Linked DNA regions of Homo sapiens: region 2 is linked to region 1. Evidence: fine-mapped expression QTL. A gene starts in region 1. The other region holds a variant in brackets. All regions are shown on one strand. Distances are from middle to middle. Region 1 holds the start of ZNF688 (zinc finger protein 688). Region 2 overlaps LOC124903679 (a long non-coding RNA gene).

Region 1 (15,651 bases):
CCAGCCTGGCCAATATGGTGAAACCCCATCTCTACTAAAAATACCAAAAAAAAAAAAAAAAACGGCCAGGCACGTTGGCTCACACCTGTAATCCCAGCACTTTGGGAAGCCGAGGCGGGCAGATCACGAGGTCAGAAGATCGAGACCATCCTGGCTAACATGGTGAAACCCCGTCTGTACTAAAAATACAAAAAAATTAGCCAGGAGTGGTGGCAGGTGCCTGTAGTCCCAGCTACTTGGGAGGCTGAGGCAGGAGAATGGCGTGAACCCGGGAGGCGGAGCTTGCAGTGAGCCGAGACTGCGCCACTGCACTCCAGCCTGGGTGACAGAGCGAGACTCCGTCTCAAAAAAAAAAAAAAAAAATTAGCCAGGCCTGGTGGCGTGCACCTGTAATCCCAGCTTCTTGGGAGGCTGAGGCAGAAGAATGGCTTGAACCCAGGAGGTGGAGGTTGCAGTGAGCCAACATAGCGCCACTGCACTCCAGCCTGGGCAACAGAGCAAGACTCTATCTCAAAAAAAAAAAAAAAAAAAGGCCTGGTGTGGTGGCTCACGCCTGTAATCCCAGCACTTTGGGAGGCTGAGGTGGGTGGATCACGAGGTCAGGAGATCAAGACCATCCTGGCTCACACAGTGAAACCCCATCTCTACTAAAAATACAAAAAATTATCCGGGCATGGTGGCGGGCGTCTGTAGTCCCAGCTACTGGGGAGGCTGAGGCAGGAGAATGGCATGAACCCGGGAGGCGGAGCTTGCAGTGAGCTGAGATCGCGCCACTGCACTCCAGCCTGGGCGACAAAGTGAGACTCCAGTCTCAAAAAACAAAACAAAACAAAAAACAACAGTTAAGAGAGTTCTTTCTGGCCCATTTAGATCTGCTAGCCCTACTTTTGAAGAGGAAACTTTTGAAGGAATGAACAAAAGAGGTAGGTGGGACTAAGCATTTCTGCATTCCAGGACTGGTGGTCAGTGACTCAAATATCTCTTTGAAAAGACTGCTTCTTTGAATCCTTGGGTTCCAAGATAATTAATGGGAACTGGTGCCGGGCACGGTGGCTCACACCTGTGATCCCAGCACTGTGGGAGGCTGAGGCTGGTTAATCACTTGAGGTCAGGAGTTTGAGACCAGCTGGGCAATATAGTGAAACCCCATCTCTACCAAAAAATTAGCCAGGCGTGGTGGCACATGCCTGTAGTCCCAGCTACTCAGGAGGCTAAGGCAAGAGGATCACTTGAGCCTGGGAGACAGAGGTTGCAGTAAGCTGAGATGGCTCCATTGCACTCCAGCCTGGGCTACAAAGCAGGACTCTGTCTCAAAACAAAAACAGATACAAAAACTGGGAACGGGGTGTTATCTTTACTTCACCACATAGCCTCTCCTGAATTGGTGGACCTGGATTCCTAGCTTGGCTCAGTCCCCACTGGCTGTGTGGCCTTTAGCATCACCTAGATTCTACAAATAACATTTTTCTCTATTTGTTTTACACATGTCAATCTGCCTATCCATCCCTCTATCCATTCATTTATCCATTTTATTAATGTATTTCAAAGTAAGTTGCAGACATCATTACATTTCACTTCTAAACACTTCAGCATACAGCTGAGTTTTATGCAAGAAACTTAAGCTCTCAGCTGGGTACAGTGGCTCACACCTGTAATCCCAGCACTTTGGGAGGCTGAGGCAGGAGGATTGCATGAGATTGGGAGTTTGAGACGAGCCTGGAAAACAGCAAGACCTCATTTCTACTAAAAATTTTAAAAATTAGCCGAGCATGGTGGGGGAGGGTGAAGAAGGAGGATAGCTTGAGCCCAGGAGTTTGAGGCTATAGTGAGCTATGATGGCGCCACTTCAGTCTGAGTAACAGCAAGACACTATTAAAAAAAAAAAAGAGCCAGGCGCAGTGGCTCACACCTGTAATCCCAGCACTTTGGTAGGCCAAGGTGGGCAGATCACCTGAGGTCAGGAGTTTGAGACCAGCCTGACGAACATGGAGAAACCCTGTCTCTACTAAAAAAAAAGAAATACAAAATTAGCCAGGCATGGTGGCACATGCCTGTAATCACAGCTACTCGGGAGGCTGAGGCAGGAGAATCGTTTGACCCCAGGAGGCGGAGGTTGCAGTGAGCCAAGATCGTGCCATTGCACTCCAGCCTGGGCAACAAGAGTGGAACTCTGTTTCAAAAAAGAAAGAAAGAAATTCAGCTCCCACTTAAAGTTCAGTTGTACTCTGTTATTGACAAGTAAAGTCGATTGAAGCCCAGTCATCTCCTGTATGTTGTGTGACTTCTCATAATTATCTGATCAAGAGTCTTGAAGAAACATTTACAATTTGATGGGCAATAAAATAATTTGAAAGCAAGAGCATTTTGTTGTTCTTGTTATTTCTTGAGACAGGGTCTCACTATAGCCTAGGCTGGAATGCAGTGGCACAGTCACGGCTCACTGCAGCCTCGACCTCCTGGGCTCAGGTGTTTCTCGTTCTCATCTCAGCCTCTTGAGTAACTGGGACTACAGGCATATGCCACTATGCCCAGCTAATTTTTGTATTTTTTGTACAGATGGGGTTTTGCCCAGGCTGGTCTTGAACTCATGGGCTCAAGTGATCTGTCTATCTGAGCCTCCCAAAGTGGTAGGATTACAGGTGTTAGCCACTGTGCCCGGCCAATTTTTGTATTTTTATAATGAGTGGCAGGAAAAACAACTCATCAGCTACACGGAACAGTTTTAGTCTTACTTGAAAGTTTGTTTCAGGCCTGGCGCTATGGCTCATACCTGTAATCCCAGCACTTTGGGAGGCCGAGGACGGTGGATCACTTGAAGCCAGGAGTTTGAGACCAGCCTGGCCAACATGGCAAAACCCCATCTCTACTAAAAATACAAAAATTAGCAGGTTGTGCTGTTTTCAGCTACTTGGGAGGCTGAGGCACGAGAATTGCTTGAACTCGGGAGGCAGAGGTTGCAGTGAGCCGAGATTGTACCACTGCACTCCAGCCTTGGCCACAGAGTGAGACTCTGTCTTAAAAAAAAAAAAAAACCACAGGCCGGGTACAGTGTGCAGTGGCTCATGTCTGTAATTCCAGCACTTTGGGAGGCCAAGGCAGGCGGATCACGAGGTCAGGAGATCAAGAGCATCCTGGCCAACATGGTGAAACCCTGTCTCTGCTAAAAATACAAAAACTGGGTGTGGTGATGCGTGCCTGTAATCCCAGCTACTCAGGAGGCTGAGGCAAGAGAATCGCTTGAACCAGGGAGTTGGAGGTTGCAGTGAGCCAAGATCCCACTACTGCACTCCAGCCTGGCGACAGAGCGAGACTCCATCTAAAAAAAAAAAAAAAAAAGTTTCTTTCAATCTGTTTAGTTAATATTTTTATTGTTCAGCTTCATCTTCTTAAGTCTTCTGCATACTTAGTTCAAAGAGAAGTGATTTACAACATAGGATCTGAAGAAACAAAAGTATTTTTGGTTCAAGTTGCTACTCTGTTTAAAAGGAGAATCCAAATAGCCACTCACCTGTAGTCTTAGCTACTCAGGAGGTGGAAGTGGGAGCATAGATCACTTGAGCCCAAGAGTTCCAGGCTGCAGTGAGCTTTGATCTTGCCACTGCACCCCAACCTGGGTGACAGAGTGAGACTCTGTTTCAAAATGACAATAATAGGCTGGGCATGGTGGTCCACACCTGTAATCCTAGCACTTTGGGAGGCTGAGGTGGGAGGATCACTTGAGCCCAGGAGTTCCAGACCAGCCTGGGTATCATGGAGAGACCCCATCTCTACAAAAACGAAAATTAGCCAGGCATGGTGTTGCACACTTCTAGTTCCAACGACTTGAAGGCTGAGGTGGGAGGATCACCTGAACCCAGGGAGGTTGAGGCTGCAGTGAGCTGTGATCATACCACTGCACTCCAGCCTGTGTGACAGAGTGAGAACCTGTCTCAATAATAATGATAATTAATAATAATAATCATAATAGAAGGAGAATCAAAATAAAACATGCAGATGGTCAACAGGTACATGAAAAAATGCTCAACACCACTAATCATCAGGGAAATGCAAATCAGAACTACAATGAAGCCGGCCTGGTGGCTCACGCCTATAATCCCAGCAGCTTAGGAGGCCGAGGTGGGCGGATCACCTGAGGTCAGGAGTTTGAGATCAGCCTTCCCAACATGGTGAAACTCCATCTCTACTAAAAATACAAAAATTAGCTGGGTGGCTGGGCGCGGTGGCTCACGCCTGTAATCCCAGCACTTTGGGAGGCCGAGGTGGGTGGATCATGAGGTCAGGAGATCGAGATCATCCTGGCTAACACAATGAAACCCCATCTCTTCTAAAAATACAAAAAATTAGCCGGCGTGGTGGCGGGCACCTGTAGTGCCAGCTACTCCAGAGGCTGAGGCGGGAGAATGGCGTTAGCCCGGGAAGCGGAGCTTGCAGTGAGCCAAGATCGCGCCACTGCACTCCAGCCTGGGCAACAGAGCGAGACTCCATCTCAAACAAACAAAAAAATTAGCTGGGCATGGTGGTGCACGTATGTAATCCCAGCTACTCAGGAGGCTGAGGCAGGAGAATCGGTTGAACCCAGGAGGGGGAGGTTGCAGTGAGCTGAGGTTGCGCCACTGCACTCCAGCCTAGGCTGCAGAGCGAGACTGACTCAAAAACAAAAAAGCACACAATGAGATATTATCGTACCTTAGTTAGAATGGCTGTTATTAAGAAGACAAAACATGACAGGTATTGGCAAGGATGCTAAGAGAAGGCAACTCTTGACTGGGCGCAGTGGCTCACGCCTGTAATCCCAGCATTTTGGGAGGCTGAGGTGGGTGGATCACCTGAGGTCGGGAGTTCAAGATCAGCCTGACCAACATGGAGAAACCTCATCTCTACTAAAAATGCAAAATTAGTCAGGAGTGGTGGCACGCGCCTGTAATCCCAGCTACTTGGGAGGCTGAGGCAGGAGAATCGCTTGAACCCTGGTGGCAGAAGTTGTGGTGAGCCAAGATTGTGCCATTGCACTCCAGCCTGGGCAACAAGAGTGAAACTCCTTCTCCAAAAAAAAAAAGAAAAAAAAAGAGAAGGGAACTCCTACACACTGTTGGTGGGAACGTAAGTTAGTACAGCCACTACTGAAAACAATATGGAGATGTCTGAAAAAAACAAAAACAGAACTACCATGTGGGCTGGGCATGGTGACTCACACCTGTAATCCCAGCACTTTGGGAGGCCAAGGCTGGTCGATCACCAGAGGTCAGAAGTTCACAATAGCCTAGCCAACATGGCAAAACCCCTTCTCTACTAAAAATACAAAATTTAGCTGGGTGTGATGGAGGGTGCCTGTAATCCCAGCTACTTGTGAGGCTGAGGCAGGAAAATCACTTGAACCTGGGAGGCAGAGGCTGCAATGAGCCGAGACCAGGGCATTGCACTCCAACCTAGACAACAAAAGCAAAACTCCGTCTCAAAAAAAAAAAAAAAGAACTACCATGTGATCCAGCAATCCCACTACCTGGAATTTATCCAAAGGAAAAGAAATCAGTATATAAAAAAGATAACCTGCATCTCCGTGTTTACTGTAGAGCCGTGTTTACAATAGCAAAGATATGGAATCAACCTAAGTGTTGATCAGGGGACAAATGAATAAAGAAAATATGATATATATACACAGTGGACTTAAGCCATAAAAAATGAAATCATGTTTACAGCATGGATGGAACTGGAGGTCATTATGTTAAGTGAATAAGCCAGACACAGAAAGGCAAATATCACATGTCCTCACTTACATGTGGGAGCTAGAAAAGTTGATCTCATGGAGGTAGAGAGTAGAATGATACCAGAGATTGGAAGGGTGTACGTGGGTGGGAGAGGTGGATGAAGAGAAGTTGGGTAATGGGTACAAACATACACTTAGGAAGAAGGGATAACTTGTAATGTTCAATAGCAGAGTAGGGTGACTGTAGTTAACAAAGTACTGTAAATTTCCATAGCTAGAAGAGAGGACTTGAAATTTTCCCAACACATAGAAATGTTAAATACTCAAAGTGATTGATACCTTAAATATCCTGACTTGATTATTGTACATTCTATGTATGAAGAAAAGCAAAATATCACATGAACTCCATAAATATGTAAAAATTTTGTGTATCAATATATTTTTTGTTTTGTTTGTTTTTTTTTTTTTTAGATGGAGTCTTGCTCTGTCACACAGGCTGGAGTGCAATGGTGTGATCTTGGCTCACTGCAACCTCTGCCTCCTGAGTTCAAGCCATTCTTGTGCCTCAGCCTCCTGAGTAGCTGGGACTACAGGCGTCCGACTCCACACCCAGCTAATTTTTGTATTTTTAGTACAGACGGGGTTTTGCCATGTTGGCCAGGCTGGTCTCGAACTCCTGACCTCAGGTGATCCTCCCGCCTTGGCCTCCCAAAGTGTTGGGATTACAGGCACAAGCCACTGTGCCCAGCCCAATTTTTTTTTCTTTTTGAGACGGGGTCTCACTCTGTCACGCAGGTTGAAGTGCAGTGGCATGATCTTGCTCACTGCAACCTCTGCTTCCTGGGTTCAAGGAATTCTTGTGCCTCAGCCTCCTGAGTAGCTGGGACTACAGGTGTGCACCACCAGACCTGGCCAATTTTTGTATTTTTAGTAGAGATGGAGTTTCAGCATGTTGCCCATGCTGGTTTCTAACTTCTGGCCTAAAGCAATCTGCCCACCTCAGCCTCCCAAAGTGCTGAGATTACAGGTGTGAGCAACTGGGCTGGGCCTAAATTAAATATTTTCAAAATTTAAAAAATACTCATTTCTAAGGATATATTTTTCCTTATATAATTTCTACAGTATTCACCACATGGAGTGCAGTGAGGCAGTTCCAGAACTCAAGGTAATAATGTAAGCATATTAATAATATTTAATTATTAACAATTAATAATTAATCAATTAATAACATATGCATATGAGATCAGCAGGAGTCACACTAAAAGCCAAAAAGCATTTCAGGTGAAAAACAGCAAGGGTAGGCCAGAAAACACAAAGAAATCTTGACTGAAAAGTCAGCAATAAAAAACACTATTGAATAAAAAGGAAGGCTCGATATACTAGGGCTGGCAGGGGAGCCAAGCAAGTAGATCCAGAGCCAGAATGACAGCAGGGACCTGGTAGGCCTTGCTTGTTATCTCCAGCAACCAGCCCCACGCTTAGCAAACAGTATTCTGCATCCTGTATGATTGCAGGTATATTCCAAATGTGGGGATGAAGGCAACTAGTATTTACAGTCCAATGCCACCAGCCATGAGGATGACCCATCTTGGCTGAAAAATAAAGACCTTAAATCTAGGAAGCGGAAGATACAACCCAGGACAGCAGGAAGGGGAGACCCGGTATGAGAAGAACTGAGGCCCAACCCAGTTTAGAGAGGAGACTGAAGGCTAAAGGAGGAAGGTTTCCCAGGAAAAAAAAAATTAGGATTTGAAAGTTGATGCTATCTTTGATAATTTGGAACAACGTAAATAAGTAGAAATGGCAGGGCCGGGCGCCGTGGCTCACGCCTGTAATCCCAGCACTTTGGGAGGCTGAGGCGGGAGGATCACCTGAGGTCGGGAGTTCGAGACCAGCCTGACTTAATATGGAGAAACCCCGTCTCTACTAAAAATACAAAATTAGACGGGCATGGTGGCTCATGCCTGTAATCCCAGCTACTTGGGAGGCTGAGGCAGGAGAATCGCTTGAACCTGGGAGGCGAAGGTTGCGGTGAGCCTAGATAGCGCCATTGCACTCCAGCCTGGGCAAGCCGAGATAGCGCCATTGCACTCCAGCCTGGGCAACAAGAGTAAAACTCCTTCTCAAAGAAAAAGTAGAAATGGCTGGGAACCGTGGCGCATGCCTGTAATCACAGCACTTTGGGAGGCCGAGGCAGGAGAATTGCTTGAGGCCAGGAGTTCCAGACCAGCCTGGGCAACATAGCAAGACCCTGTCTCTGTTTTAAAATTTAAAAATTAGCCAAGCATTGGGTGTGCGCCTGTGGTCCCAGCTACTCGGGAGGCTGAGGTGAGAAGATCGCTTCAGCCCGGGAGGTCGAGTCTGCAGTGAGCTAGGATCGCACTGCTGGGCCACAGAGCAAGACCCTGTCTCAAAACAAACAAAAAATAAATTCATGTATGTTAGCAACAATTACTATTTAATTTAAAACTTCCCCATTCCGATTCCATCCTCACCAAGCACGTTCCTTCGCCTGCAGCTTCGGTCTAGAGCCTGAGCGAGCCGAGCTGCGGATGCCAGGGGCTGGGTGGACTCCGCAGCTAAGCTACTGTAAAACACGCACCTGCTTCTACCGCGGGTGTACACATGGTTTGCCAGGGTGTGCGCGTCTTCCCAAGGGGTCTGGGGACCAAATTCCAGCTCCCGCCATCGGGAGGCACGGTAAGAGACCGTAGGGGACACAATCCCGAGCACCGCAGATGCCGAGGTCTCCGCTGCGCTCCAGTCTGTCAACAGAGGCTTCAGGACCGCGGGGTCCCTTCAAATGCCCCGCCAGTCCCAGGCCAATCACCGCGCAGCTTCTTCCGGGATCGTCGCCAATCATCGGCCGTTGCGTATTGCGGGTACAGAGGGGTAAGTGAAGCTTCGGGCCCTTACATCTTTCTTGAAGGCAAGAAGCCTCTCCTCTACTTCCCAGACACCCCGCCTCCCCCACTAGAAAAAGCAGCCGAAGCGGCTTTATTTAAGGGCAAGTGGGACGATGAGGCCAGAGAAGTCAGAAAGGCTCCATATTTGATATGGTCAAATAATGGCGCCCTTAAGAGCAGCCTGTGACAATTGAAGGGTGGTCGCCATATTTTCAGAAGGCACCTTCCGGGTCCCTTAACCCGGGTGTCTATGTCCAAGCGGCCATGAAGTGAATAAACACTGAGGAATTATATTTGTCCCTATCAGAATCCTCGAATCCCTAGCAGCCAGTCCCTGCTACTTCGGTTGCCTCGGCTGCGTTCGGACGCCACGGCTGGGCGGGGCCGCCCTTCCTGTGGACAACGACAGCTGAGGCCGGGAGCGGGGAGGCGGCGGCTCCAGGGACCTGGCGGCCGCCGATCGGGGCTGCGAGGCCCCATGGCGCCGCCCCCAGCCCCGCTCCTGGCGCCGAGGCCCGGGGAGACCCGGCCTGGTTGCAGGAAGCCCGGGACTGTGAGCTTCGCGGACGTGGCCGTGTACTTCTCCCCGGAGGAGTGGGGCTGTCTGCGGCCCGCGCAGAGGGCTCTGTACCGGGACGTGATGCAGGAGACCTACGGCCACCTGGGCGCGCTCGGTGAGAGCCCCGGGTCCGAGCCCCCTCCTCCTTCACCGGGTTCACAGGGGAGATGATGTAGAAGGGCCGAGAGGACTGTGAGCCCTAATCCCGCACTCTTGCACCAACACCAGCAGCCACCTCCCGTTCCCAGGGCTTCAGGTACCCCCTCGGGAGTGTTTTCACCCGCATCCATTTCATTCAGGCAGCAGCACTGCAGCCCCTTCCAGGTTGAGTATAAGCTCCGAGGGGGTGCCCTCAGCCTGGAGGGGAATGCCATCTTCCCACGATGGCCTCTCAGGCCCGCGCTGTGATCCCTGTTCTCTCCCAGGATTCCCAGGCCCCAAACCAGCCCTCATCTCTTGGATGGAACAGGAGAGTGAGGCTTGGAGCCCCGCCGCCCAGGATCCTGAGAAGGGGGAAAGACTGGGAGGAGCTCGGAGAGGTGAGGGATAGTCCCGGGTCCCCCCACTTGGTTTTCCAGGGCTTCCTGTCTAGCAGAGTTTCTTTTCAGGCCCCCACTTCCAGCATCCCTAAAGAAATTCAACTGTGTTGGGTACTAGAGGAGTAAAGAAGGCAGACCTGGTACAAAGTTTTCAGAACATGGGACAGCGGTCCTGTGAGGACTGGGAGCCCAGTCCAACCAGGCACTCCAGCCTGGGTGACAGAGTGAGACTCCGTCTCAAAAATAAATAAATAAATAAATAAATAAATAAATAAATAAATAAATAATAGCCCCTGCTTCCTGAGCACTTCCTAAGTGCTTAACATGCATCTACTCAGCTAAACCAGTAACGCTGTGAAGTCAAAAGCCATTATTATTCCCATTTGATGCATAAGGAACCAAGGCTCAGATAAGGCACTTTTAGGAGATCTGAATCCTGTTTACCTTGTTCTAAAGCCTGTGTGTTAATCACTGGACAGAACTTCCCTCACTGCCTTAAGTGAAAAGCATTCTATAACCTGAGACAGTCTGTGCAAAAGTGTTTGTAAGTGTAACTTAATTCCGGTTTCCCAGGAGATGTCCCAAACAGGAAGGAAGAGGAACCGGAGGAAGTCCCAAGAGCCAAAGGGCCTAGAAAGGCTCCTGTGAAGGAGAGTCCTGAAGTGCTGGTGGAACGCAACCCTGACCCAGCTATTAGCGTGGCCCCGGCACGGGCACAGCCACCCAAAAATGCTGCCTGGGACCCGACCACAGGAGCACAGCCCCCGGCACCCATACCCAGCATGGATGCTCAGGCCGGCCAGCGGCGCCACGTGTGCACGGACTGCGGCCGCCGCTTCACCTACCCCTCACTGCTGGTCAGCCACAGGCGCATGCACTCGGGGGAGCGGCCTTTCCCCTGCCCCGAGTGTGGCATGCGCTTCAAGAGGAAGTTCGCAGTGGAAGCGCACCAGTGGATCCACCGCTCCTGCTCCGGGGGGCGGCGGGGCCGGAGGCCTGGGATCCGGGCTGTGCCTCGGGCCCCCGTCCGAGGTGACCGGGACCCGCCTGTGCTCTTCCGGCACTACCCAGACATCTTCGAGGAGTGCGGCTGAGCGGCACCGCAGGCTGGAGTTGAGCCTGACCTTGGCACGAAGGACTGACGGATCCCTGAGGTGGGCCACTGAGTCGGGGACTCCGGAACTGAAATTCATGCCCTGGGCTTTCCTCAAGGATCCCTCAAGTTTCCAACTTGTAAAAAGAAAAGTGCCTGTAAAGATTCGAATAGATTAGACTTGCCACCCATCTCCCCAGTCTTTTGTTTAACAAAAAAAAAAAAAAAAAAAAAAAAAAAGAAGAGAGTGAGACCCTGGACTCATTTCAAAGTGTTATCTGAAGATCAGGTGCAACAGAGACCTTTATATCATCTCAGGAACTAGCCACTCCTTATCTATTTCAGATGCAGATGCTGAGGGGGACCAGGGCCTGGGGAGGGGACCTACATGGAGGGCGTGGTCAAACCCTGGCTAATTGTCATCAGCAGGGGACCCAGACACTGGAGTGGATGGGAGTAGAATAGATGCAGGTGGCACAAATCCAGCCTCTGTTGGGAGACCAAGGAGGGAGGATCGTTTGAGTCCAGGAGTTCAGACCAGCCTGAGCAACAGGCTATCTAGCGATATCTAGATATCTAGGATATCACTATCTAGAGATAGTGAAATCCTATCTCTACAAAAAAAAAAAAAAAAAATGAACCAGGCATAGTGGCACATCGTGCCTGTGGTCCCAGCCACTTGGGAGGCTGAGGTGGGAGGACTGCTTGAGCCCAGGAGTTCAAGGCTACAGTGAGCTATGATTGTGCCACTGTACTACAGTCTGGGCAACAGAGCAAGACTTCATTTCTTTCTTTTATTTTTTTTGAGACAGGGTCTCACTCTGTCACTAAGGGTGGAGTACAGTGGCGCCATCTCAGCTCACTGCAACCTCTGCCTCCCAGGTTCAAGCAATTCTCCTGCCTCAGCCTCCTGAGTAGCTGGGATTACAGGTGCACGCCACCATGCCCTACTAATTTTTGCATTTTCAGTAGAGACGGGGTTTCACATGTTAGCCAGGCTGGTCTCAAACTCCTGACCTCAGGTGATCCACCCACCTTGGCCTTCCAAAGTGCTGGGATTACAGGCATGTGCCACTGCGCCTGGCCAAGACTCCATTTCTTAGAAGAAAAAAAAAAAAAAAAAAGCTGGCGCCATGGCTCATGCCTGTAATCCTAGCACTTTGGGAGGCCGAGGTGGGCAGATCACCTGAGGTCAGGAGTTTAAGACCAGTGGCCAACATGGTGAAACCCCATCTCTACTAAAATACAAAAATTAGCTGGGTATGATGGTGGGTGCCTGTAATCTTAGCTACTCAGGAGGCTGAGATGGGAGAATTGCTTGAACCCAGGAGACAGTGGTTGCTGTGAACCGAGATTGCGCCACTGCACTCCAGCCTGGGCAGCTGCGTGAGACTCTGTCTCAAACAAACAAAACAAAACAAAAACTAGTCTCTGCAACTTACCCCAGGCACAGCTGGTAAGTCATGTGAACTTCCTGAGTCTCAGTGCCTCCTCTGTAAAATGAAGATGAATAATATCTACCTCAAAGGGTTACCGTGGAGACTGACATTTTAACAAGATGTATGACATAGTAATTGTGCAATACACATTTGTTGAAAGAGTGAATTACTGTGGATGGTCTACACTTTAGAAAGTGTAAAGAAGCCTGCCAGGGAGCCAGGGCATGGATATCAATAACCATGTTTGCAGATAAGTAAACTGAGACTCAGAGAGATAACGTGATGCTCTCAAGATTTCACTCCCATGTGGCAGCATGGGTGGAAATGAACACAGAGCCCAGATGTCTCTACCACTTCCTTTGAGAAGTCAGATCTGGACAGAAAACACGGGCTGGGAACTCAGGATGCAGGTCCCAGCCCAGCCTGCTTGGGGAGTGTGAGCAGAAAACTAAGAGTCCCAGTAAGTGCCCCTTTTCTTATCCTTTCCTTTTCTCTTTTATTTTTTTGAGATAGAGTATCACTCTGTCACCCAGGCTGGAGTGCAGTGGTGTTAACATGGCTCTCTATAGCCTTGACCTCCTGAGCTCAAGAGATCCTCCCACCTTTGCCTCCTAAAGTGCTGGGATTACAGGTGTGAGGCACCTCGCCTGGCCAGTTTTTACTTAGAAGGCACAGTCATGCTGGGCGTGGTGGCTCACACCTGTAATCCCAACACTTTGGGAGGCCGAGATGGAAGGATCTCTTGAGCTCAGGCGTTTGAGAACAGCCTGGGCAACATAGTGAGGCCCCCATCTCTACAAAAACAAAAATCAGCCAGGTGTGGTGGCGCGTGCCTGTAGTCTCAGCTACTTGAGAGGCTATGGCAGGAGGATCACTTGAGCCAGGGAGACTGAGGCTGCAGTGACCCATGATTGCGCCACTGCACTCCAACTTGGGCGACAGAGTGAGACTCTGTCTCAAAAAGAAAAACAAAAAAGAAGGTACAATTGGCACTTAGTGACTGTGTGTTGAGTGCCTTCTGTTGAAGGGACTGTGCTAGGTAATAGGGGAATTCCACGATGACGAAAGCTGACCCCATTCATTCATTCATTCAGCAAACACCCTCCTGAAGCCTCTGTGGGTTTTTGTGCTGGGCTCCAGTGATACAGCTGAGTCAGGGCCCACGTTCGACGTGGGAAGAGATTAATTGGCGCTATGACAGAGGAAGCCCAGAGGCACCACCTCACCTAGGCTGGTTGGTGATATGCCAGGAAATGTTCCTGGGAGGAGATGGCTGTGCTTCCCATAGCCTATGAATTGGTGTTGGGGGAGATTTTCAGGCAGAGGAAACAGCAAAGGAGTCTTGCTTCATAGAAAGAATAAAAGACACTTTGGGAGGCTGAGGCGGGCAGATCACCTGAGGTCAGGAGTTCAAGACCAGCCCAGCCAACATGGTGAAACCCTGTCTCTACTAAAAATACAAAAATTAGTTGGGCATGGTGGTGGGCACCTGTAATCCCAGCTACTCGGGAGATTGAGGCAGGAGAATCGCTTGAACCCGGGAGGTGGAGGTTGCAGTGAGCCGAGATCGTGCCACTGCACTGCAGCCTGGGCGACAGAGTGAGACATTCTGTCTCAAAAACAAAAACAAAACAAAACAAAAAAACTAGATAAGGAAGAATGGGAGACAGATGCAGCCGAGAAGTGGGGTCAAATCTGGGAGGGCCACAGAGGCCACCAGAGCAGCTTGAGATACATTCTGTGGCACTGAGGAGCCACAGAAAGTTCTTGAGCAAGTGCAGTGCTGTTTGCCAGGTGCTATCAGAAGATATCTTTGCAAAGCAGTGTGGGTGTGACCTGGTTGGGGGACAGAGCTAGACACTAGAGATCTGTTGGGCATTTTTTCCTAAGTGAGGGTCACTGGGAGCTGGGACCAAGGTGGTGACCTTGGAATTAGGAAGAAAGACACGAGAGGCTTCTGACATAGAATCTGCAGCTCGGTGACTGCCAATATGAGCCAGTAAGACCCAGAGGTTCCAGTATGGAGAGCCGGAGCCAGGGGACCTGATGCCCACCAAGGGGTGATCAGGAGTAGGAGGGTGTGAAGGCCAAGGGTGATCCGTTCTGGGGAGCAGGGAGGCCAAGGAGAAGGTGCAGCTGGAGAGAGGAGGCCCTGCCAGTGAGGGAGGAGCAGAACCAGGTGAAGTGTGTCAAGCATAAAGCTGCTCTGGGCAGCCCCAGCTCTGGTGCTGGACACAGGGCAAGTGCTGTCTGCTATTTCTCTTTCTCATTGGCGCATTTAACAAATAGCTGCTAAGCGTTTACCATGCACTAGCTGTTATTCTCCATGCCAGAACATAGCAGGGGAAACAGACACAGGAACCCTCTTGGAGCTTACTTTCTACGAGGGAGAGACAGGTGATAAACCAGAACACGAATGAAGGAAGGGACTGCGAATGCAAATACTAAGGCTTATGAAGGAGCTCGAACAGCGATGTGCAGAAAGAGCCTGCTGCAGACCGATACTGAGGCTGCGCCATGTTGAGAAAGAGCCACAGGGAACAGGGTTAGGGGACAGGGAGTGGGGAAGGGCAGGGTTCAAAGGCTTGGGGCTGGGGTCGGGGAGAGTAGGGGGTAGAGACGTTTCCAAAGAAAGGGAACAGCAAGTGGGATGTTCCAAGCTAGGGATGAGTTCCCACAAGGTGCAGAAAGGACATCTGTAGCTGTGCTGAGACACCAGGTGGAGAAGATTAACAGATGGGCTTAGGGAGGGGGAGGCGCTCCCACAAGGCTCTCGCTTCCCATGATGCTAAGTATCTTTTCTTCCTTCTCTTTCTAACCCCCACCCCGACACCACGTCTTCTTTCTTTGTGACAGGGTCTCGCTTTCTCTCCTGGGCTGGAGTGCAATGGTGCAATCATGGTTCACTGCAGGCTTGATCTCCCAGGCTCAAGTCATCCTCCCACTTCAGCCTCCCAAGTAGCTGGGATCCCAGGTGCACACCACCGCACTCAGCTAATTTTTTTTCCAGACAGGGTCTCACTATGTTGCCCAGGCTGGTTTCAAACTCCTAGGCTCAAGAAGTCCCCCTGCCTCAGCCTCGCAAAGTGCTGGGATTACAGGTGTGAGCCACTGCACCCAGCTCCATGATTCTCAGTATGTTGGGACATCACTGGGTTGTCTTTGTTTTTGTTTTGTGGTAAATATACATAATATACAATTTATCATTTAGACTATTTTTGAGTGTACAGTACAGTTCAGTGGCAAAATGTGTAATAGTACTATTGTAGAACCATCACAGCCCTCCATCTCCAATTTTTTTTTTCTTTTTTGAGACAGAGGAGTCTCACTCTGTCATCTAGGCTGGAATGCAGTGTTGGGATCTCAGGTCACTGCAGCCTCTGCCTCCTGGGTTCAAGCAATTCTCCTGCC
Region 2 (15,651 bases), 250 kb before region 1:
GTCAGGCTGGTCTCCAACTCCTGACCTCAGGTGATCCACCCACCTCGGCCTCCCAAAGTGCTGGGATTACAGGCGTGAGCCACCGAGCCCGGCCAAAAGTTTTCTTAAAGGTAAAGGTTTATATTGATCTTTCCAATTGAACATATCCCTGATGGCCTGTGGATGCACCAACCACACTGACAGAATCATTTGAGGCTGCCTTTAGGTTATCTCCGTCTTAGAGCTTAACAGGAAGTTATGTAGCTTGCCCAAGATTACACTACAAGTAATGGCTGGAATTGGGATTCAAACCCAGCACTGTCTAATTTCAGAAACTGAGGTCCTACAGGTTTCCTACAAGGCCCTGCCTCACCCTCTGCCTGCTCTCAAAAATACCCAGCTTAATCGCTTGCAAAAGACTTTCCACCAACTTGCGCCATTTGGAAGTCATAAATGGGACAAGTTGGTGGAAACTCAGTGAGGTGGGGAGAAGAGGAAACACTACCCAGATTCTTCTTTTCTCCGTACAGGATTCGGGAGTGAGAATGACGAGGAGAGCCCTTCACGAGAAGGGGCTGAAGACAGAGCCCCTCAGGAGGCTCCTGCCCAGGAGGGGCCTCCGGACAAATGTCCGGCCCAGTTCCATGGCGGTGCCGGACACCAGAGCTCCCGGGGGAGGCAGCAAGGCCCCGAGGGCACCCAGAACAATCCCCCAGGGTAAGGGGAGGTGAGTGGGCTCCCCAAGCAAGCCAAGACCCCTAAAGCCTCCCTTGGCTGCCCCAAGATCCAGCCACTACCTGTGCCCCGAGGGCGGAAAGAGCTTCCCAGCTCACCCACCGCGGTAACATCGGAGGGCGAGCGGCCCCACACCTGCCCGAACCTAAGGCCACAGCACCCATCTGGCTCGCCACTGGCGCCCGAATGCATGGGAAGGGCTTAGGGCAGAACTCGGACCACATCCAGTGCCTGAGGCCGCCTTGCTAGAGGCCTAGGGGAGGGGTGCACTGGGCTGCCTCGCCCACCTCCTCACGCACCCATGCGGCCACCCTCCCAGCGGTCTGAGTGTGCCATGCGAGGCGCCTGCCACCCCGGGAGAGGCGCCGAGTCCCGAGTCCTGCCGGCACTGAGCCTCCGGGTCCACAGCGGGCAAGGGCCGTGGCGGGGACAAGCGCAGGGGACCCGCCGGCCTCCCGCCTTCTGCAGCACCACGAGATGCCCACGTGGCACCTGGACGTCCATGCATATGTTGAGGCCCGTGCACGCGCAGAGACCCCAGCGCAGAAGCCGCCCCGCACGCCAGGGCTTATGTATGCCAGCGCTGGGAGACCTCCAGCGCCCGAGGACATACGGCAAGTGGTTCCACCAGGGTGTCAGCCTAGCAGGCCAACCTGGGAACCCATGTGGACAAGCGGCCTTTCAGCCCAGGCGCCCGCCTCGGGTGGAGGCGTGGAGACTTCTGGCGCAGCCCTGAGCTGGTGGCCTAACCTACCTGGAAAATCCTAGCCCGAGAAGCAGCGCGAGTGAGCCTTTTGGGTGGTTCCAAGGCCCTTCACCAAGCTCTCACTTCCTGACTTCACCGTTGGGTCTGTTGTACTAGGAAATAATAACGCCTCCCATTTATCAAGGGTTTACTCTGTACCAGGCATTGTGACTGATGTAATTTAGTTCTCACTGCATCCCTGTGGCATGGATATTCTCATTATCTGCATTTTGCAGATGGAGAAATTGAGTCTCTGAGAGGTTAAGGAACCTGCCCAAAGTCAGCAATGCAGTACCACTTCTTGTGCTGGGACACAGCGGGGTTAAGGCCGTGGGTTAACAGGGCCTCCATTTATGGAGAGCATTCATTTTTCTCTGGTGAATTACAGAAAACGCTTTCTACACTGAAGTGAGTAGATACTCCCTGGGATGAAAGTCAACATTCGTACCAATGATTGAGATGACAGAAATTTCACGCTTCAAGCCAATGCTTTAGGTTCAGCCCATGGAATTCTGGAATGACCTTTTCTCAGTCGTCACCAGGGTGATGTTGGTGAAGGAAGCTCCATTCCAGGACCAGCTCCTGTGTAGAGCCTTCCTGGAGGCCAACAAGGATGACCTCTCTCCATTTGCCATCCCACTGGGTTGTCTGGGAAGTTCATCCAGTTCCTCTGGGCTAAGATTTCCAAGTTCCCAAAAGGGAAACTAATCTTCAGGAGTTGGGAATGAAAAAATGGGATTTGGGGGAATTCCTGAAAGCATGTTATTCTGTATTTTTCATAACTTTCTGTGTTTTTTTTTTTTGTTTGTTTGTTTGTTTGTTTGTTTTTGAGACGGAGGTTTGCTCTTGTCACTCAGGCTGGAGTGCAGTGGTGTGATCTCGGCTCACTGCAACCTCTGCCTTCCGGGTCCAAGTGATTCTCCTGCCTCAGCCTCCCTAGCAGCTGGGATTACAGGCACGTGCCACTATGCCCAGCTAATTTTTTGTATTTTTAGTACAGAGAGGGTTTCATCATGTTGGCCAGGCTGGTCTCAAACTCCTGACCTTAGGTGATCCACCCACCTCAGCCTCCCAAAGTGCGGGGATTACAGGCGTGAGCCACCATGCCCGGCCACTTTCTGTATTTTTTAATAAATAAGAAATACACATTTAGTAGTAGTTACAAAGATCTGTAGGCCGTAGCAAATATTCAGTAACTGGAAGATGCCAATGAACATTGTTGGGTAGTATTTAAATAACAAAATGTTCAAATATTTGACAAGATTAACAACACTACACAGAATCACGAGTTGAAATTGCCAGTTTAGGCTGAGTGTGGTGGCACATGCCTGTAATTCCAGCACTTTCGGAGGGCAAGGCAGGAGGATCACTTGAGCCCAGAGTTTGAGGCTATAGTGAGCTATGATTGCACCACTGCACTCCAGCCTGGGCAACAGAGCAAGACCGTGTCTCTTAAAAAAAGAGAGAGGGAGAGAATTGCCAATTTAAGGACTTATGTGTTTCCAAAACTTGTTATTTATTAGAACATCATTTGTAGGATTTGTATAAAACACAGTGCACGTCAACATTAATATTTGTGGGAATGACTCGCTCTTAACAACAGGTACAGCCACAAATATACTTTTAGTGTGTCAACAGCTACAAAAAGTATTTTGACTACTTATCTCCTAGGTACTCTTATCCCATATTCTGGAAATGTCTACCTTAACTTTATTTATTTATTTTTTGAGACAGTCTTGCTGCAGCTCCCAGGCTCAGGTGCAGTGGTGCGATCTCGACTCCACCTCCCGGGTTCAAGCAATTCTTGTGCCTCAGCCGCCCGAGTAGCTGGGATTAGAGGCATATGCCACCATGCCCGGCTAAGTTTTGTATTTTTTGTAGAGACACGGTTTTGCCATGTTGGCCAGGCTGGTCTCGAACTCCTGACCTCAAATGATCCAACCGCCTCAGCCTCCCAGAGCACCGGGATTACAGTACCTTAACTTTAGACTCTGTGTGTCAACGTTGCCTTCTCTTGCTTTCAATTTGGCATCAGTGGATTTCTTTAAGCCAGGAATGCCTCTATGTTGATTGTTAAGCATTAATTCTCACAGGAGAATTATAATGCTTTTCCCCATTTTCCCAATTTCTTGACTGATCGATTTTGGGATTCAGAAGAACATACAGATTTCCTGATAAATTCCAGAAGGGATTTCCTGCATAGAAACACTACTTTGGGGCTGGGCACAGTGGCTCATGCCTATAATCCCAGCACTTTGGGAGGCCAAGGCGGTTGGATCATTTGAGGTCAGGAGTTCAAGACCAGTCTCGCCAACATGGTGAAACCTCATCTCTACTAAAAATACAAAAAAAAAAAAAAAATTAGCCGGGCATGGTGCTGTACACCTGTAGTCCAAGCTACTCGGGAGGCTGAGGCAGGAGAATCGCTTAAACCCAGGAGGTGGAAGTTGCAGTGAGCAGAGATTGTGCACTCCAGCCTGGGTGACAGAGTGAGATTCTATCTCAAAAAAGAAAAAGAAAGGCCGGGCGCGGTGGCTCATGCCTGTAATCCCAGCACTTTGGGAGGCCGAGGCGGGCGGATCACGAGGTCAGGAGTTCGAGACCATCCTGAACAACATGGTGAAACCCGTCTTTCCTAAAAATACAAAAATTAGCCAGGCATGGTGGTGCGTGCCTGAAATCCTACCTACTCAGGAGGCTGAGGCAGGAGAATTGCTTGAACCCAGGAGGCAGAGGTTGCAGCAAACTGACATCCCACCACTGCACTTCAGCCTGTGTGACAGAGGGAGATTTGTCTCAAAAGAAAAGGAAAAAGAAAGAAAAAGAAACACTACTCTGGACTGAGCAGCATCGGCAAGTCAAGTCTGCTGCTGGAATTTTACCTAGAACATTGAATCTTGCCTTTTTGGTTTCAGGGGCCTCAGAGCCAGAGAATCCAAGTATGGATCCTAGCTCTGCCAGTTCCTGGTGGCGAGGTCTTGGGCAAGTCACTTTACCTCTCTGAGCTTCAATTTAATGGATAGAATAATGTGTGGGGAGTCAATGCTTGCTTTTTGAGGCAATATTGTAGGAGGGTTAAGAGTGTGGCTCTGTAGTCAGTCTGAGGTTTGAATCCTGGCTCCATTACTTACCACCTCTTTGATTTGAGGCAAGTTACGAACCACTCCATTTTTCTCTTCTGTAAAGTGGTGGCACTGATTGATGATTGTGGCAGACATCATCTTCATAGAGTTTTCATGAGTTTAAATGGGATCACATATGAAAATGCTTAACATAGAACATGGTACATTGTAAGTGCTTGATAAATGCAAACCACTGTAGCTGTTACCTGCTGTATCTACCTCACCGGGCAGTCGTGAGGATGAAAGGGAGGCTGTGTTGGGGAAGTGCTTTCTAAACTGTGAAATGGTAGCCACACACTTCTCTTGCCTTCAGAGATGGGATGGTTGGAAGCTATGGGCAGACGTTAATGGTATCCCCAAATAAGGGGCCTGAGAATACTTACCTATGTCCACAGAAGGTAGCTGTGTTGAGGCGAGTGTCACCATGGGTAGCTGGAAAACAGTGCAAAATGCTCTCAGCTAAGGGTTAATTGTAGTCATGAGGGCAAACTCTGGCATGGTATGACTTGGGGCACCCTTGGGGACAGGGAGAAAACTGATTTTTCAGAAAGAGGCTTTAGAGGAAGGATCATGTTAAATGGAACCTGCCCACTATATGTTTTTGTTTTTGTTTTTAATTAGGGGCCGCATCAGAGGAAGGGGACATGTAATAGAAGGTGGTTGGAGGGCTCTGACTTTTGTCTGAAACTGCTATTGGTGAAAGGCTGAACTTAGGACACATTCCTGTGAGCGGCAACCAGTGCACCCTCTCGCACTGTGCATGCACCACGATGTCATTCATTGCCTAGACCGTAGACCAAACATGGCTCAAAGGGCCTTCCAGAGAGGATCGCATGTCATTCTGACAGTAGCCCCTCAACAATGTACAGATGAGGGCTTGAAGTCTCAGAAAGTCAAGTCCATTGTCCAAGGTCACACAACTGATATTAATATATCATGAAGTCAGGATTCAGACACAGTCCAAGCTCTTTTTTTTTTTTTTTTTTTTTTTGAGCCGGAGTCTCACTCTATCACCCAGGCTGGAGTGCAGTGGCACAATCTTGGCTCACTGCAACCTCCTCCTCCCAGGTTCAAGTGATTCTCGTGCCTCAGCCTCTCGAGTAGCTCGGACTATGGACTTGTGCCACCGCGCCTGGCTAGTTTACAGTCCAAGCTCTTAACCTCACCAGCCTGCCTCAACCACCAGGGGCCAGACTGCTGATCTTGAACAAGGAAGAAGAAAATCCAAATGGTTTCAGTGCCTAAATGTCCTCCTTTCTTGCCTTTGGTAACAACTTTTTCTGTCTCTGAATATCATTGCTACTTCTCTGGACACTGCTTCTCTGCTTCCAGGGCTGTTTTTCTTGCTTAGCCCTAAGTCAGCCTCGTTTGGGCCCTGTCCTTAGACTCTTTCTTCTGCACGGGTCTGTGAAAGATCTCCTTTATGTGCGCAGCTCCAGCTGTTGGTCCTTTCTCAGTAGTCTAACCCAGACTGCCCCTCTGAGCGCCAGCCTGAGCAGCCAGCTGCCTCCTTGACATCCCCTCTCTGGGTCTCATTCGTGATGTCTCCCCTAACACGGCTTGCTTCCAAAGTGCCACCTCCTCCCTGCCATGGCCTCTTAGTTCCAAATTGTGGCATAGTGGTGGGGAATTTAGAAAGGCTTCAAAGACGAAGCCTCTTGAATGAGTTCTCAGGGCTAGAGATAGACCACAGAGTGTGTTCTCTGAGCGCTACCAACAGTCTGGGGGTGAATTTGGAGAGTGGAATTCACCATTTAATCAGTCAGCTGGCTATGGAATGCCCAGCTGCATGCCAGGTCCAGCCGCTGGGGTGGAAAGATGCATTCATGAGTAGAACAAACAGGATTCCTGGCTTCAGGGAGCATCCAGGCTGTTGGAGAAGACAGACGTCATGCAATCCCCCAAAATACACTCTTATAAACTGTGATAAGTGTCATGAAGGAAAAGTTCTTGGTGCCATGAAAGCATATTGTAGATCTAAATTAGATTAAGATGGTCAAAGAAGGTCATTGTGAGAAAGTGACAATTACTGTCTCCCTGAGATCTGAATTGGGGAGGAGAATTCCATAGACAAGCAAGAGTAGGCACAAAAGACCCAAGGGTGGGAAAGAGCTTGGTATGGTGGGGAAACTGAAAGGCAATCCTTATAGTGGGAGCTGAGCATGCAGGGGCTTGGGCTGAGATAAAGCCAGGTGGCCTGGGCGGGGGTGATGGCAGAGCCTGGTGGGCCACAGTAAGGAGCCTGGAGGCTTTAGGTTAACTTTTTTTTTTTTTTTTCTTAAATTTGAGACACAGACTCACTCTGTCCCCAGGCTGGAGTGCAGTGGTGTGATCTTGGCTCATTGCAACCTCTACCTCCGAGGTTCAAGCGATTCTCCCACCTTAGGCTCTCAAGTAGCTGGATTACAGGTGCCTGCCACTACACCTGGCTAATTTTTGTATTTTTAGTAGAGAGAGAGTGTCACCATATTGGCCAGACTGGTCTCGAACTCTTGACCTCAAGTGATCCACCCTCCTCTGCTTCCCAAAGTGCTTACAAATCCCCAAAGGGATTACAGGCATGAGCCACCATGCCCTTCCTGGTTTAACTTTTTATTTGGAAATAATTTCAAAGTTACAGAAAAGTCTCAAGAATAGTACAATGGACATCTGCATAGCCTTTGTCCCAAATTCACCTGGTGTTCACATTTTACCCCATTTCTCTGTCACTGGCCATCTCTCTATTTAAGGTATATACAGATGACTTTGATTCCAATCTAGTTGAGAATAAGTTGCAGACCTCATGTTCCTCTACCCCTAAATAGTGTGTTTCCTCCCACAGTACAGTTATCCACTGCATTAAATTTCACACTGATCCAATGTGGTATCAAAGTTACTTTGTCACTTGTCTCAGTAACACCCTTTAGATGCCATTTCTCCTCTAGCACAGGATCAAGTCTAAGAATGCTGTAT[T/G]GCATTCGGTTGTTGTTTCTCTCTAGTATCCCTTAATCGGGAATGGTTAGCCTTTCTTTGTCTGCATGGTGTTGATATTATTGAAGAATTCAATCTTCCCCTTTATCTTAATAGAACATTCTTCATTTGGGGTTTGTCTACTTGTTTCTTCATTATAATATATGGATTATGCATTCCTGGCTGGAAGACTGTGTAAGTGATACTGTGTCCTTCTCAGTGTAACAGCTAAAGCCACACATGTCTGTCTGTTCCTCCGTGGTGATTTTTTTTAAAACAGAGTCTTGCTCTGTTGCCCAGGCTGGAGTGCAGTGCAGTGGTGTGATCTCAGCTCACTGCAACCTCCGCCTCCTGGGTTCAAGCAATTCTCCCTGCTTCAGCCTCCCTAGTAGCTGGGATTACAGGTACCCACCACCATGCCCAGCTAATTTTTGTATTTTTTAGTAGAGACTGGGTTTCGCCATGTTGGCCAGGCTAGTCTTGAACTCCTGCCCTCAGGTGATCCGCCTGCCTCGGCCTCCCAAAGTGCTGGGATTACAGGCGTGAGCCACCACACCCAGCCCCTCCTTGGTGATTTTAATTTTGATCACCAAGTCAAGGTTATTTGATTTCTCCAATCTAGAGTTACTATTTTTCCCTTGTAACAAGTAATCTATGAGGAGGTATTTTATAACCATGACTATATCCTATTCCACATCAAAAGTTAAATAGATGAGATTTAACACCTATTGATGATTCTTGCCTAAGAATCACGATGGTTACAGAATAGTAACTCAACCCCAGGACTCCCTCCACATTTATTAGTCAACACTTGGCATTCTTCTGTCCACTTATTTTAGATTCACTATTCATAGGGACTCTTGGATTTCTATTATTTTCCAATAAATTTTATAATTAGTTATTAATCTTAATTATTTTGGTGCTCAGATTGTCCCAGATTTGGCCGCTGGAAGCTCCTTAAAACTACAAGCCTGGATTTCATCCCAGCTTCAGTGTAGTGGCATGATTCAGTTTACGGATAAGATCACCGTGACTACTGTATGAGAATGCACTTATAGGGGCACACATGAGGAAGCAGGGAGACCCTCGTGTAGTCCAGGTGGGAGATGTGGCTTAGATTAGGGTTGTGACATACATGGGGAGGGAATGGATGGAGGTAAGAGAAACATTGGAAGCCAAGTGCTGTGGCTCACGTCTGTAATCCCAACACTTTGGGAGGCCAAGGCAGGAGGATCGCTTGAGGCCAGGAGTTTGAGACCTGCCTGGGCAACATAGCAACACCCTGTCTCTTAAAAAAAAAAAGTAAGAATTGGCTGGGCGCGGTGGCTCACACTTGTAATCCCAGCACTTTGGGAGGCCAAGGCAGGCGGATCACGAGGTCAGGAGTTCGAGACCACGGTGAAACCCCGTCTCTACTAAAAATACAAAAAATTAGCCGGGCATGGTGGCGGGCGCCTGTAGTCCCAGCTACTCGGAGAGGCTGAGGCAGGAGATGGCGTGAACCCGGGAGGTGGAGCTTGCAGTGAGCCGAGATCGAGCCACTACACTCCAGCCTGGGTGACAGAGCGAGACTCCGTCTCAAAAAAAAAAAAAAAAAGTAAGAATTAGCCAGGCATGGTGCTGTGCACCTATAGTCCTAGCTATTCGGAAGGCTGAGGTGGGAGGATCACTTGAGCCCAGGAGTTTGAGGCTCCAGTGAGCCATGATTGTGCCACTGCACTCCAGCCTCAGTAACAGAGTAAGACCCTGTCTCTAAAATAAAATAAAAACATTGGAGGTAGAATCAGCAGGATTTAGTGGTGGATTGAACGCACAGTCAGAAAGGGCAGAGTTGAGAGCCACCGGAGCATCCGGGGGAATGGTGATGTTGACTTAATACAGGGAAGACAAGCAGAGTAAGGGGTTGGGTGGTGGTGGGGGGAGGTGTTAGATTCGTTGAGTTTGAGGGGTCTGGAATATCCAGTGTTCTCTGGCACCCAAGTGAAGGGGTCAGTGAGACAACTATACTCTGGAGCTGACACAGAAGTCCAGACCAGAAGTAAACTTAAGGCCACGAATCCATGGTCTTGGATGAATCATGTTGTAAGGGGAGAATGTGGACTGAGATGGGAGTGCACTGTTTGGGGGTGCAGGGGTGTATGGCCAGAATTTGCAGTGGAGAGGTAGGTGGGGACCAGGGCACATGGCGCCTGGAGTGTCAGGCCAAATGCTTAGCGCTGGGGAGCCCACTGAAGAGTCTTGGGCAGAGCAGTGAATGACAGGTGTGATTGGCGTTTCAGCAGGACTGTTCTGACAGCCAGTACAGATGATCTGGGGGGGGCTGTGGCAGTGGCTGATGCTGTTGTCCTTTCTGAAGTAAATCTGCTCATCTCTTGCCCCTGGAGGTGGCTCAGGCGGGTCGCCATGCCTGAATGCCCTCTCCTTGTTCATCTGGGTGCAAAAACGATGATTAAAACACCTGTCTCAACTGCACTCACCAGCCCCCGGTGATGTGATAGCAAACCCATGTCTCCCTGCCTCATTGTGGCCAGAGCTATACAACCTGCTCCTTTACCAGCCCCTGGTGATGTGACAGCAAACCCATGTCTCCCTGCCTCATTGTAGCTAGAGCTATACAACCTGCTCCCGGGACCTTTTCCCAGCCAGGTATAACACAGCAGGTGTGAGTGTGCACAGGTTGGTCCCCAAGGCTTGCTGGAGTCTGTTTGGGCACCATAATCCTCTGCCCTGGCATGCTTTGAGTTCACTGTGGTCTCTGTCATTCCGGCCAGTGCTCATTCAAACCTGTATATTGTCCCCTCCCACCCCGCACAGCCCATAGAGGGTGGGTTCAAGTCGGAATGAACATCCTGGGGTGCAGGCATCCAGGAAGTATGCAGTCCTGCCTATGGGGTGCTGACAGCCCCTTGGCAGGACACAGATAACCAAAGGCAGAAATTGTAAGAGACCAGAGGGAGGGGCAGGTGCTCTGGGAGCCCAGGAAAGGCCAGAGTGTTTCTGGTTGGAGAAATCAGGGTCGGTCCTCAGAGAAGATGGCGTTTGAACTGGGACTTGAGGAGAAGACTATTTTCCATTTCACACAAGAAATCTTTGATTATTCAGTAAAAAGAGGAAATATAAGAAAAAAAATCAGACTAGTCTGGCCAACATGGTCTAAAAATACAAAATTAGCCAGGCATGGTGGCGGGCGCCTGTAATCCCAGCTACTTGGGAGGCCCAAGCAGGAGAATCGCTTAAACTCGGGAGGCGGAGGTTGCAGTGAGCCGAGATCATGCCACTGCACTCCAGCCTGGCAGACAGAGCAAGACTCCATCTCAAAAAAAAGTAAAAAAAAAAAAAAGAAAAAAAAGGCCGGGTGCAGTGGCTCATGCCTGTAATCCCAGCACTTTGGGAGGCCGAGGTGGGTGGATCATGAGGTCAGAAACTCGAGACCAGCCTGGCCAATATGGTGAAACCCTGTTTTTACTAAAACTACAAAAATTAGCCGGGTGTGGTGGCAGGTGTCTGTAATCCCAGCTACTCCGGAGGCTGAGGCAGGAGAATCACTTGAACTCGGGAGGCGGAGTTTGCAGTGAGCTGAGGTAGCGCCAGTGCACTCCAGCCTGGACGACAGAGCGAGACTTCATCTCAAAAAAAAAAAAAAAAAAAAAAGGAAAAAGAAAAACAATCAAAGCCCCACTTCCTCATATTTTATTGACATTGTCAACACAGCCATTATAGGTTGCATAACAATCTATTAGGTGGATCCTGCATAGTTAGTCCTCTTATTGTTGGACTAATTCATTCCAGGCCTCAGGACATGGGCTTCCAGCCTGTGGCTGGGCAATGGGGCCAGATGCAACTCAGGAATCAGTGCTTGAGTCCATCTGCTCATTTTCTTCCACTCATAATGTCTATTAAGAACTCAATGCCTACCGGGCCCTGTGGATCCAATGAGTATCAGGACATGGTTCCTGTCCTGTCAAGTCTACTAGTAAGTGAGTCATAAGTGAAAAGAATTAGTTGTAGAGAAACCTGTAGAGTGCCACAATCAAGGCACAGGATGTTCAAGATGCGGTGATGACACAGACACAGGAGCTTCAGCCCTGGGAACAGGAGAGGACACCAGGCGGGGCTCGAGGAGTGAGAGGGGACAGGCCTGATGACACACGCCAGGGGACCAAGCCCGCGGGGATGCCTCCAAGCGTGTCTCTGTCCACAGGCAGAAAACTCATCCCACCACCTCTCAGGCCTCTGAGTGTTTGCTTTTTCTGTTTTCTATTTCAAATATTCCATTTCTCCCATTTTTGGAGGAACTGTTTTTATACTACTTTCCAAAATCCCAACTTGCAAGCATGCTTAATTCGTTTCATTTTTCTTCTATTTTTGACACTAAAAGCATTTAATGCTGTTTTTACCTCTGCATATAGCTTTGGCTGTTAATCCTACTTTTTAAATTATTTTCTAAATCGTCTGTTTTTTAATTTTTTTAACTCTTGATTTACATCTTGTCCTAAGGATAATTTGAGGTGCTACTTACGTTTCAAAATTTCTAAGTGGTATGTTTTACATTATTGTTAGTTGTATTGCATTTTGATCTGAGAATGGTTTCTAGAATTTCTACTTTTCAAAATTTACCAAAATATTCTTTGTAGCTTAATAATTATTTAATTTTGTCCACTGTCCATGAAACTTGAAAAGAAGGTGTACTGTTTGTTTTCAGGGTAAGAAATTTATATGTTCATATTTTCTATGTCCTTATTTATTTTTTGATTATTTGTTCAGAAAATGTGTTAGAATATTTCCAATAAAACTGTTTCTCATGTTTTTCCTTGTATTGTTATATATTTTATTTCACAGTTCTTTGTTGTTTATTTAACATAAGAAAAAAAAAAAGGCTGGGCGTGGTGGCTCATGCCTGTAATCCCAGCACTTTGGGAGGCGGAGGTGGGCGGATCACAAGGTCAAGAGCTCGAGACTATCCTGGCCAACATGATGAAACCCCATCTCTACTAAAAATACAAAAATTAGCCGGGTGTGGTGGTGCATGTCTGTAATCCCAGCTACTCAGGAGGCTGAGGCAGGAGAATCGCTTGAACCCAGGAGGCAGAGGTTGCAGTGAGCTGAGATCTCGCCATTGCACTCCTGCCTGGGCAACAGAGCAAGACTCCATCTCAAAAAAAAAAAAAAATTAAACCCATTCGAGGCTGGGCCCAGTGGCTCACACCTGTGATCCCAGCACTTGGGAGGCCGAAGTGGGCAGATCTCTCGAGCTCAGAAGTTTGAGACCAGCCTGGGCAACATGACGAAACCCCTTCTCTAACAAAAAATACAAAAATTAGCCAGACAGGGTGGCATGTGCCTATAGTCCCAGCTACTTGGGAAGCTGAGTGGGAGGATCACTGGAGCCCGGGAGGGAGAGGTTGCAGTGAGCTGAGATCACACCACAGCGCTCCAGCCTGAGCGACAAGAGCGAGACTCCATCTAAAAAAAAAAAAAAAAAAAATTAGGGCTGGGCGCAGTGGCTCACGCCCATAATCCCAACACTTTAGGAGGCCGAGGTGGGCAGATCACGAGGTCAGGAGATTTAGACCATCCTGGCTAACACAGTGAAACCCCGTCTCTACTAAAAATACAAAAAATGGCCGGGCACGGTGGCTCACACCTGTAATCCCAGCACTTTGGGAGGCTGAGGTGGGCGGATCACGAGGTCAGGAGATCGAGACCATCCTGGCTAACACGGTGAAAACCCATCTCTACTAAAAATACAAAAAAATTAGCCGGGCTTGGTGGCGGGTGCCTGTAGTCCCAGCTACTAGGGAGGCTGAGGCAGGAGAATGGTGTGAACCCGGGAGGCGGAGCTTGTAGTGAGCCAAGCTCGTGCCACTGCACTCCAGCCTGGGCAACAGTGCAAGACTCCATCTCAAAAAAAATAAAAATTAAAAATATAGGCCGATTCTTCCTCGTGCTTGGCATTGAGCTCCCGCAGCCGAGCCTGGGTCATGCCTGCCCTGCCCGGCCCCGGGTGCACACTGCAGCCCCTGCAACACGGGAGGCTGCTAAGCGTGAGTGGCGGTGTCCAGCAGGCGCTGTGTGGCAGGGAGGGCATCCATGGCTGCAGCCAACAACGGCAACAAGCCCAGAGTCCGGAGGAGTATCTGCTTTGCGGCAGGCCACGATACAGAGGGCTCCCATGTTGCTGTCGGTTGCTACAGGTGTGAACGAAGGGGGATGAATGCAGAAATGAAGACCAAGACAAAAAGATCTGTTTTGAAAGAAGGGGTCAGGGGGCTCCTTGCTTCTAGTGAACAAGGGCAGCCCTGAGCTTCCACAGCCCTTCGTATTTATTAGGTAGAAAGAGCAGGGAGGGAGAGGTAACGGTTGGTCAGTTGCTTGATTTATCACAGGTACACATAATTGCTTTCTTTGTACAACAGGCTTCAGATGTTCCTATAGGTAATCACAAGGAACACTGCGCTTGGGGCGTGACTGCTCTCAGCACTCCCTCTGTGGGCAGATGCAGCCCTCAGTTTTCCAACATCCTGCTTTCATGAGAACAGTTTTCTGTTTACTCATATAGCCTCCAGTGGTATACTGAGTTGGTCACGACCCACATTTTCTCGACCTGTAATACTCCCAGAGCCACGTCTGCTTTGATGAGAGGCTTCATGACTCGGTGGTCATGGCCACCCAGGACAGCGACAGCAGCTTTCTGGTCAAGGTTGGCTTCCTGAAGATCCTGCGCAGGTATGAGATTACCTTCACTCTTCCCCCGCCCAGTGAGCAAGCACGTCCGTGAGGCACCTGTTCCCAGCCTCTGCATGTCAAGCTCCTCAGCGTTGTTCCTGTCCCTGAAGGTTACAGTGTCAAGTGCGAGTACTCAGCGCACAAAGAGGGTGTCCTCAAAGCCGCGATGCTGCCAGCCTGCGAAGGTGGCGCCGGCGCCTGTGTGAGCGTGGCAGTGCAGGCTGGCGCCAGGGGCCGACACCACGGCATGCCCACCTGCTGGACGGTGTCAAGGGCTCGGGCGCCGCGCTGGAATAAGACTCGCAGCACAGCCACTGGCACGGCTTTGACTGAGGCCGGAGGCCCTGCCCGCCCCGAGCCCTCAGCCTTAAACCCCGCCTGGTCCCCGTGACACGCTGCGTGATGGTGGCTTCCTCGGCCCTCTCCGGGGTGGGCGTGGGGTGGAGTGGCCCTGGCCAGCCTCCCACCTCTGCCTTCATTCCTGCCACCACCGTGCCTCTCCCGTCCTCCTCTTCCACTTCCTCCTCTCCGTGTGCCTCAGGCTCCTGCCAGAAGACATTGGTTGAGCCCACAAGGAGACTGTCTGGGGAAGGGATGGGGAGGGCCTGGGGTGGGTTCTCCCCACTGCCCACCCCAACCCACAGGAGCTCCAGCTAGGGTCTGGGGGAGGATGGAGCTTGCTCTGTGACGTCGTGGCCCCATCACTGCTGCTGCTGCCTGGCGTCAGCCACCTCTCCTGCTCCTCTCTCTTCTCCTCTGCTGTCCACAATGAGTAGGAGGGAGGTGCAGTCCCCACCTCTCACCCCTCAGGTCTGTGTTACTTGGTTTTTAAGTGACTGATTGGGATAGAACCCTAAAGAAATAAAACTTCCAGTGGATACGAAATTATATATATATATGCCCATATGTGTATATATATATATGCCCATGTGTGTGTGTGTGTGTGTATATATATATATATATATATATGCCCATATGTGTGTGTGTGTGTGTATGTATATATATATATATATATATATATATATATATATATATATGCCCATATGTATATATATGGGCATGGTGGCTCATGCCTGTAATTCCAGCACTTTGGAAGGCCAAGACAGGAGGATCACTTGAGACCAGGAGATCAAGACCAGCCTGGTCAACAGAGCAAGACCCCATAAGACCCCATCTCTATCTACAAAAATAAAAATAAAAAATAAAAAGAAATTAAAAATATATTAACAAATTAAAAACAATAAATAGAATTTCTTTATCTGATGGAAAGGATATATATTTTTTAAAAACTAGGCCGGGTACAATGGCTCACACCTGTAATCCCTGCACTTTGGGAGGCCAAGGCGGGCAGATCACAAGGTCAAGAGCTTGAAAGCATCCTGGCGAACATGGTGA

What was found. PIP is the estimated chance that this variant, and not a neighbour inherited with it, causes the effect.
Region 2: its variant is the best candidate, but not a certain one, in a credible set for the expression of ZNF688 in whole blood (TOPMed, PIP 0.65).

What each region holds. Positions count from the first base shown.
Region 1 is chr16:30,565,067-30,580,717 of GRCh38, reverse strand. ZNF688 (zinc finger protein 688) reads left to right here and starts at 9,004. Exons shown (of 3, transcript NM_145271.4): 1 at 9,004-9,284; 2 at 9,595-9,708; 3 at 10,282-10,992. The coding sequence starts at 9,089. The coding sequence ends at 10,802. ZNF785 (zinc finger protein 785) reads left to right here. Exons shown (of 3, transcript NM_152458.7): 3 at 1-62. RefSeq lists a silencer at 8,997-9,236 and enhancers at 10,099-10,662, 10,663-11,228, 12,188-12,297.
Region 2 is chr16:30,820,007-30,835,657 of GRCh38, reverse strand. It overlaps LOC124903679 (a long non-coding RNA gene), which reads right to left. Exons shown (of 2, transcript XR_007065052.1): 2 at 13,774-14,801. It also overlaps the pseudogene ADISSPP2 and a transcript of BCL7C not described here. Among named protein-coding and RNA genes, the nearest start is that of ZNF629, 41 kb to the right of the region's middle. The variant T/G (reference allele first, on the strand shown) is at 7,534.